Linked DNA regions of Homo sapiens. The protein of the gene in region 2 interacts with the protein of the main gene of each other region in a pairwise test. Each region holds a gene or a part of one and is shown on either strand. Other genes may lie near its edges.

Region 1 (3,819 bases), on a different chromosome or scaffold from region 2:
CCTTTATCATCTTGTGGAATGGTTCAAACCTTGACTACACATCAGATTTGTAGTCTTCAAACTGGTGAGTCTTCAAAACATACCTAGACCAACTGACTTAGGATCTCCAGAGGTGGCCCAGGCTCTGGTATTAAAAAACAAACTTCCCAGGAGATTCTAAAGTCTATCCAGGACTGTGAATCACTAGAACCCCTTATTTACAGAGGAGGACAGTGAGTGCCAGAGCCTCGGACTCATTTGCCCAGCAGCAGAGCTGGCTGGCAGCAAGGCCAGCACTAGCACGAGGTGGGGTGAGGTGCACCTCCCAGCTCTGGGCTCCTTCCATTCCACCATACACTGCACTTTGGTGCCTGGAAAATGAACTCTTCCCTGCCCATATGGAGTGCTGTGGAGGGTTAGCCTCACAGGCAGAGGAAATCATCCGCCGGAGAAAGGGTAGCGGTGAATTTGAGGAGCTGACAATTGGCCACAGGTGGAGTGCAGTGAGGCGAGCAGAGGAAGGGTGGAGAAACAGGAGGGAACAGATTATGCAAGACTGTGACCCAGGTTAAGAATTTTGGACTTTATCCTAACAGCCCTGGGAAGCCATTGAGGGTTTAAGCAGCAGGATGTTGAAAGTTATTCAACAGCTAGCAGATGTTTATTAGGTGCCGACTATGTGTCAGGCACCGAGGTTACAGCAGAGAACAAAAGTGGCAAACTCCCTGTCCTACCAGAACTTACATCCAGTGACCTGAGGAATCCTTTAGAAGCTGAAATCAGATCCAACTGTGGGATCATCAAACCCTCAAGGGTTTCCTGATTTACATAAACCTCCTCTCCCCTTTGCTGCCCCAGTGCTGCAGCCACTCTGGCCTTTTGATCCTCAAACACACTCGGTCACGTGTTAAACTGCCAATCTGCCCGGGTGACCAACCAGGTTAAACCCCTCAATGGCTTTCTGGTGCTCCAGGAATAAAGTCAAAACTCCTGTCCTTCCTTTCTTCTGTGAGGAGGCTGTCCCAGGAGATCCTAGCTGGATTCCCAGATAATCATGGCCCAGCCTGTGTCTCCAGGCTCATTTCCTGCCACTCCCCACCTCAAACTCACAGCCAAACCAAACCGCTCTCCATGCCTCAAAGTGCTATGCTCTTTCCTGGCTAAGCCCTTCGACAATGTAATTCCTTCTGCCTAGAACACCATCCCTTTCCCACTTAGCAAATGCCTTTTCTAGCTTGAAGTCTCAGCTGAAAGCCACCTCCTCTGGCAATTCTTTCCTGACCTGTCAGATTGGGTCCACATGTAGTCTAGTTATACAGCCCCAAAACACCCCATGCTGCACCCTGTACTTCTCTGCAGTTTTAAGTCCTGACTTATTAGTGTAATTACTCGCTTAACACCAGCTTTTTCCATGAAACAAGGAGAGAGATTGTGTCTGTCTTATCACCAGAATCTACATATTACTTGGCACAGAGTAGACAATAAAAACTGACTGAGAAAACAAAGCACAAGCACAGAGTATCTGACACAAAGAAGATGCTTCCTACACATCTGCTGAAGGAATGCGAACAATCTTAGCCACCTGCCCTTTCTCTCCAGCAAGATGGTAGTAAATTGGTAGAGAGAGAAGCAATTTCTTCATATTCCCTGTAGCAGCAAGAACAGTGGGCTGCACGTCACCAGCAAATCATCGTATCCAAGGTTTCGCTCCAGCAACTTACAGAAACCAGGAGAAGAAAAAGCTGTGTCTGAGAAAATGGTTGTTGTGGAGTAAATTGTAATAGTGAGAATCACTCCTTCCCTTTTCTTTAGTTTTAGACCTAGGTATACACCCCATAAACAGAGTTTATTTTCTCAGGTTTTGAGCCTCAAATGAATGGAATTTTTTTCCTTTTTTTTTTTTTTTTTTCCATGTATTTGGGTGGGGGGCTGTCAACATGTTTGTGAGGCTCATCCATGTGATTATGAGCTGATTTTACTTAATTGCTGCTCTCTAACTATACAATTTTTAATGCAGTCTACTGATAGCCATATGAGTTGTTTCCAGTTTGGGACAATTACAAACACTGCTTCAGTGAATATTTCTGCATACATGTTCTAGCACACACAGGCAAGATGTACCCTCAATTTGACTAAGCAGGCCAAACTGTTTCCAAAGTGACTATAGTGCTATGTAGTCTGCTCAGCAGGCTATGAGCACTCATGATGCCCCACAGCCTCACCAACACCTGATAATATCAGCTTTAATTTTTGCCACTCTGGAGGATGGGATATAGAATATGTGTGTGTGTGTGTGTGTGTGTGTGTGTGTGTGTGTGTGTGTGTGTATTTAACTCCCCAAAAGGAAACAGCATGAGACAGGCCCAATAACAGGCCAAGGAATCCTATAGCAGCAGACCAGATATTGTGCTCCTCGACCCAACCAGTAAATGTTGTAAATGTTTATCTTTGGGGAGAGAAGGGGAAGGGCCCACCCAGCTTCTGTTCTTCTTTCCCTTGGTAACTTACCATCTATGAGTTAGTGAGATGGAGACATCCTAACCATTAATCCAGGGAAAGGGAGGAATCTAAGCCATCAGCAAGGGAGTTAGTGCTTTTCATCAAATTTGAGACACCTGTGACATCACATTTTAGCATCTCTGAAATGTGATCAATTGCATGTCATAATTTAACTGGCAAAATATTTTTTTGATGTGGAGCATAAAATAAGGGCACATAAAAGATTTGGTGGTGCTGTGGTTTGAACATGTCCCCCAAAAGTTCACGTGTTGGAAACGTAATTGCCAATGTAACGGTATTAAGAGGTGGGGTCTTTAAGACGTGACTGGGTCATGAGGGTGTAACTCTCATGAATGGATTAATGCCTTTCTTGCAAGAGTCCATTGGCCAGAACCGTGAGCTGAATAAACATCTGTTGTTTACAATTTACCCAGTCTGTGGTATTCTGTTACAGCAACAGAAAATGGATTAAGACAAATAGCATCTTAGATTTGGTGAGATGTGGCATATTTCCTAAAAAGTGCTGCCAGGATCATCCTTCTAGCACACAGGATCTCATCCTTGTTATTCTCCTGCTTCAAATCTCCTAGCTGAGGCTGGGTTTGGTGCCTCATGCCTATAATCCTAGCACTGTGGGAGGCTGAGGCAGGAGGATCCCTTGAATCCAGGGGTTCAAGACTAGCCTGGCCAACATAGGGAGAGACTGTCTCTAAAATAAAATAAATAAATAAAAATAAAAATAAAAATAAAAACAAACACACCAAAAAAACTCCTACTAGCTGAGGTCAAAACTGCACAGGTGGCCGGGCACGGTGCCTCACGCCTGTAATCCCAGCACTTTGGGAGGCCGAGGTGGGCAGATCATGAGGTCAAGAGATCGAGACCATCCTGGCCAACATGGTGAAACCCAGCCTCTACTAAAAATACAAAAATTAGCCGGGCATGGTGGCACGCGCCTGTAGTCCTAGCTACTCGGGAGGCTGAGGCAGGAGAATCGCTTGAACCCAGGAGGCGGAGGTTGCAGTGAGCTGAGATCACGCCACTGCACTCCAGCCTGGGTGACAGAGCGAGACTCTGACTCAAAACAAAAAAAAAAAACTGCACAGACATCCTCCCCTGCCCTGCATCCGGCTAGCCCCAACTTACCCATCCAGCCCCAAATCCCTCCTCGTCCTACCTAATTCTCTGGCCATTAGATACACTGAACCAGGAAGACAGCCCCTTCTTCACTCCCCACTCTCCACCCATTCCCTTGTACATGCTCTTCTCTCCAGTCCAGCGCATCCTTGAAGGCTTGAATACAATTTGTCCCCTTATCTGTGAGGTGTTTCCTGTACCCAT
Region 2 (3,819 bases):
AGCCAGGCGTGGTGGCGTGCGTCTATAGTCCCAGCTATTTGGGAGGCTGAGACAGGAGAATTGCTTGCACCCAGGAGGCGGAGGTTGCAGTGAACTGAGATCACACCACCGTACTCCAGCCTAGGCAACAGAGTCCGTCTCAAAAAAAAAAAAAAGTTACACAGAAATAACATTGTCTCTGCTTGGGGTTTTTTATGGGAAGATTTTTAACCAATGCTTTAATTTCTTTAATAGTTAAAAGACTCTTCACTTTCTATTTCTTTCAGTTTTGGTAAGTTATATCTTATTTCACCTCTATTTTAATCAAATAGAGCACACCACCACATCCAGCTAATTGTTTCGATTTGTTTTTTGTGTGTGTGAGATGGAGTCTTGCTCTGTCACCCAGGCTGGAGTGCAGCGGCATGATCTTGGTCAGCTCACTGCAACCTCCACCTTCTGGGTTCAAGCAATTCTCCTGCTTCAGCCTCCCGAGCAGCTGGGATTACAGGTGCACCCCATCACGCCTAATTTTTATATTTTTAGTAGAAACCGGGTTTCGCCATGTTGGCCAGGCTGGTCTCCAACTCCTGACCTCAAGTGATCTGCCCACCTCTGCCTCCCACAGGTGTGAGCCACCGTGCCCGGCCTTGATTTGTTTTTGTAGAGATGGGATCTTGCTGTGTTGTCCAGGCTGCACGTTTTATAATACACATAAGATATGCTGATACAACAACAGATGCATAAAACAATTGGGCTAGGCATGGTGGCTCACACTTATAATCCCAGCACTTTGGGAGGCTGAGATGGGAGGATCATGTGAGCCCAGGAGTTCAAGACTACAACGAGTTGTGATGGAGCCACTGCATTCCAGCCTGGGTGTCAGAGCAAGATACTGTCTCTAAAAAAATAATATTTGTATATATATATATATATATATTTTGGAAGTATCTTTTGAAAACGTTTCTGTCTGGGTAATTATTTACAGAAAAGCTTGGCGAACACAGCCCCACCTGACCGATTCACCTTCATGGCCCATTCTGCAGCAGGCATGATTCAAATTTAGGTTTCATCAGTTACTATACATTATGAACTACCCTCCTAAATTTGACCCAGACTGAGAGCAGCAGTGCCACAAGTGCATGGGCTTATCTAATCCAGAGGACCCACAGCCACCCCACTGCTGCAAACCCACACTCACAGCTGCGAGCATGCTCCTTGGAGAGCAGGTAGTTGGCTAGAGGTGGTGTGTAGGTCAAGCACTGGATGGTGGCATTGAGAAAGCAGGTGTTGCCAAGGTTGTGGAGTCCTGCGCCCACGCGGAAGACCCGCTCCCACCTCAGAGACAGTCGCTCCGTGGGGAAAAGCACTTTCTGCGGGGCTGGGACTCCGTCACCACAGCTCTCATACGTGTGCTCACTGCCTGAGGAAGAAAGGGACAAGGGAAGAAAAGAGGAAGACGTAAGTCCACACACAGGTCGTCCACAAAAAGAAACTCCTGAAGCATACACTTAGCATGCAGTGACTCGGAACATGGCACCAGAGAAGAACTGGTGTTCTGGTTTACAGGACATTCCTGGAAAGCTCAGGAGTAAACCCAGCCATCCCACGGACCTCCTAGGCTGCTTGGCTAAAGAATTCAAGGGCCCCTCTATAGATGGAGGACACAGCTCAGAGACTGAGTGGCGGAAGGAGCCAGGCCTGGCACTCTGCACCACACTGTGCCCACATGCAGCCCACCCCATTTCTCTTTCTTAGTTCCAAGCCTGACTTTCGACTGTATTATACTTGGGATAGGGGGACAGCAAGTCCAAGGACCCACCAAGTACACAGATCCACCAAGCACACAGATTTCCTTGCTACCAACCCTGTATCATTACTTCTATAACTGAAATCCACTGACCCCATGTAAAAATTCATAACTCTTTGACCACATTCTCTTGTTTTTCCTACTAATTAGTCAATATTTAAGTCCATCCACTTCGTCACCCCGGAGTGAGGGCCTCTCTGCCAGCACACTGCACATCTGTACCCTGTCTCCTGGCCGGTGGGTCATCTCCACTCTTGTGGCGACTAGCTCCCTCTGTTTTGGGGTTGAGCAACACATATTTGCTCTTTAAGGCCTCCAGCTGGTAGGAGAAGCTCTTGCTGGCTGGCTCGAACTCGATTTTCTGTAAAAGGACCTTCTTGGCAGAGGAGGCAAGAAGCTTCCCCAGTTCTCCATCATCAGCCGAGTCCTTGCGGCCGGGTTTCAGGGCCTCCTTCAACTTATCCACTATTGGCATGGTGCATCACTGTGGGGACAAGAAGAAACATAGAGCCATAGATAACGAAATCCCGGGACAAAAACATCTCTTAAGATCTCCTCTTTGGTCATTATGGATGCTAGCCACCACAAAAGCTCCCCTGGATCAGTGATCCCCTGGATCAGCTGCACAAAGGAAACAGGGAGACCCAGCACTAATCACTTGGACATATTAGTTCACATTTCCCCCACAAAAAGATAAGATGCCACTACAAATAGAGGTGAGCAGACAACAGTGGCCCTGAGGCAGCCAGACAGCCCCTGCCATGTGCATCTCTTCATCAGATACTCATCAAGTGGCTCTGGACATCATTCTTGGTGCCATTTCCTTCCAAAGGTCATCACGTGGTCCAAATGTCTGCTCCAAAACAGGGGCACACTAATTCTCACATACAAACTGGTTATACACACACGGACACACACACACACACACACAAACGGACACACACACACACACCCACGCAATAAATGAATTAGCATGCAGGTCAGATGAGCATGCATGTCTGTACAGACCTGCACTCTTCAATATGAAGGCCACAGGCCACACGTGGCTACTGAGCATGTGAAATGAGGCTAGTCCAGGTTGAGAGGTGCTATAAGTGTAAAATGCACACCAGATTTTGAAGAGAAATACTCACTAGTATAAGAAGAGAATGTAAAACATCCCAGTAATTTTTAGATCAGTTACCTGTTGAAATGGTAATATTTTATATATATTGAGTTAAATAAATTATGAAAATGAATTTCACCTGCTTCTTTTTAATGTGGCTACTATAAAATTTTAAATTATATTTGTGGCTTGTATTAATCTCCATTACACAGTGCTTGGAGTACAAATTATCTTTTTAAAAGTGAGGAAGGAGAAGAAAAGCAAGTAGCAGGCCTAGAGACTAGTATCCATTAGACACCTAAACTTAAACAAATGTCTTCCCAGGACTCTTATCAAAAGAGAAGAAGAAAAGCCAAGCAGGAGAGTGGGGAGATCACAGGCTTTGGAATGTGGTGGCCCCGGGAGGTTCTATCATCCTTAGCTATGAAACCCAGGGACAACTACTATGACTTCTCCAAACCCCCTATTCTACTGTAAAATAGCAACAAAAATAATAGGCTTGGGAAGTGCTTTAGAGCTTGCTACATACTACAGTCCCTAACAGAGGATCGATACTGTTGGTGCAGCTGCATGGAAACTGTAACCAAGAAGAGACCCCTGCACCTCTCCAATCGCTACCTTTGTATCCACCACTTGCCCTCCCCTACCCACCACCTCTCAACTTAACCTTCCCAAACACAGCACAGACTATCTGAGTCACAATTTCAAAAATATGTCCCTTAAATTGCTCACTCACATCAGAAAAATGATGACTTCCTCTGGTATTCAGTACCCAGCCTGCCCTCAGAGAATCAACAAGTCAAGTGTGCCCCAAAATTCTGCTCTAGTGAAAGTAAGGACTTCCTCCAGCACCTCATATTAAGCCATTCAAATTTATCACTGTGGATCATCTAATTCTATACATGGATCAAGTATCTTTTTCTAC

Evidence for each region.
Region 1: the proteins of USP36 (region 2) and TRIM26 interact in a two-hybrid assay, tested with the Homo sapiens proteins (one large-scale study listed by BioGRID).

What each region holds. Positions count from the first base shown.
Region 1 is NC_000006.12:30,206,646-30,210,464, forward strand, and holds part of TRIM26 (tripartite motif-containing protein 26), read right to left. Parts: intron 1-3,819.
Region 2 is NC_000017.11:78,834,100-78,837,918, forward strand, and holds part of USP36 (ubiquitin carboxyl-terminal hydrolase 36), read right to left. Parts: intron 2,973-3,819; exon of another isoform or gene 2,798-2,972; intron 2,274-2,797; 5' UTR 2,265-2,273; coding exon 2,012-2,264; exon of another isoform or gene 1,900-2,011; coding exon of another isoform or gene 1,883-1,899; intron 1,403-1,882; coding exon 1,181-1,402; intron 1-1,180. UniProt on the Homo sapiens protein: Deubiquitinase essential for the regulation of nucleolar structure and function. Required for cell and organism viability.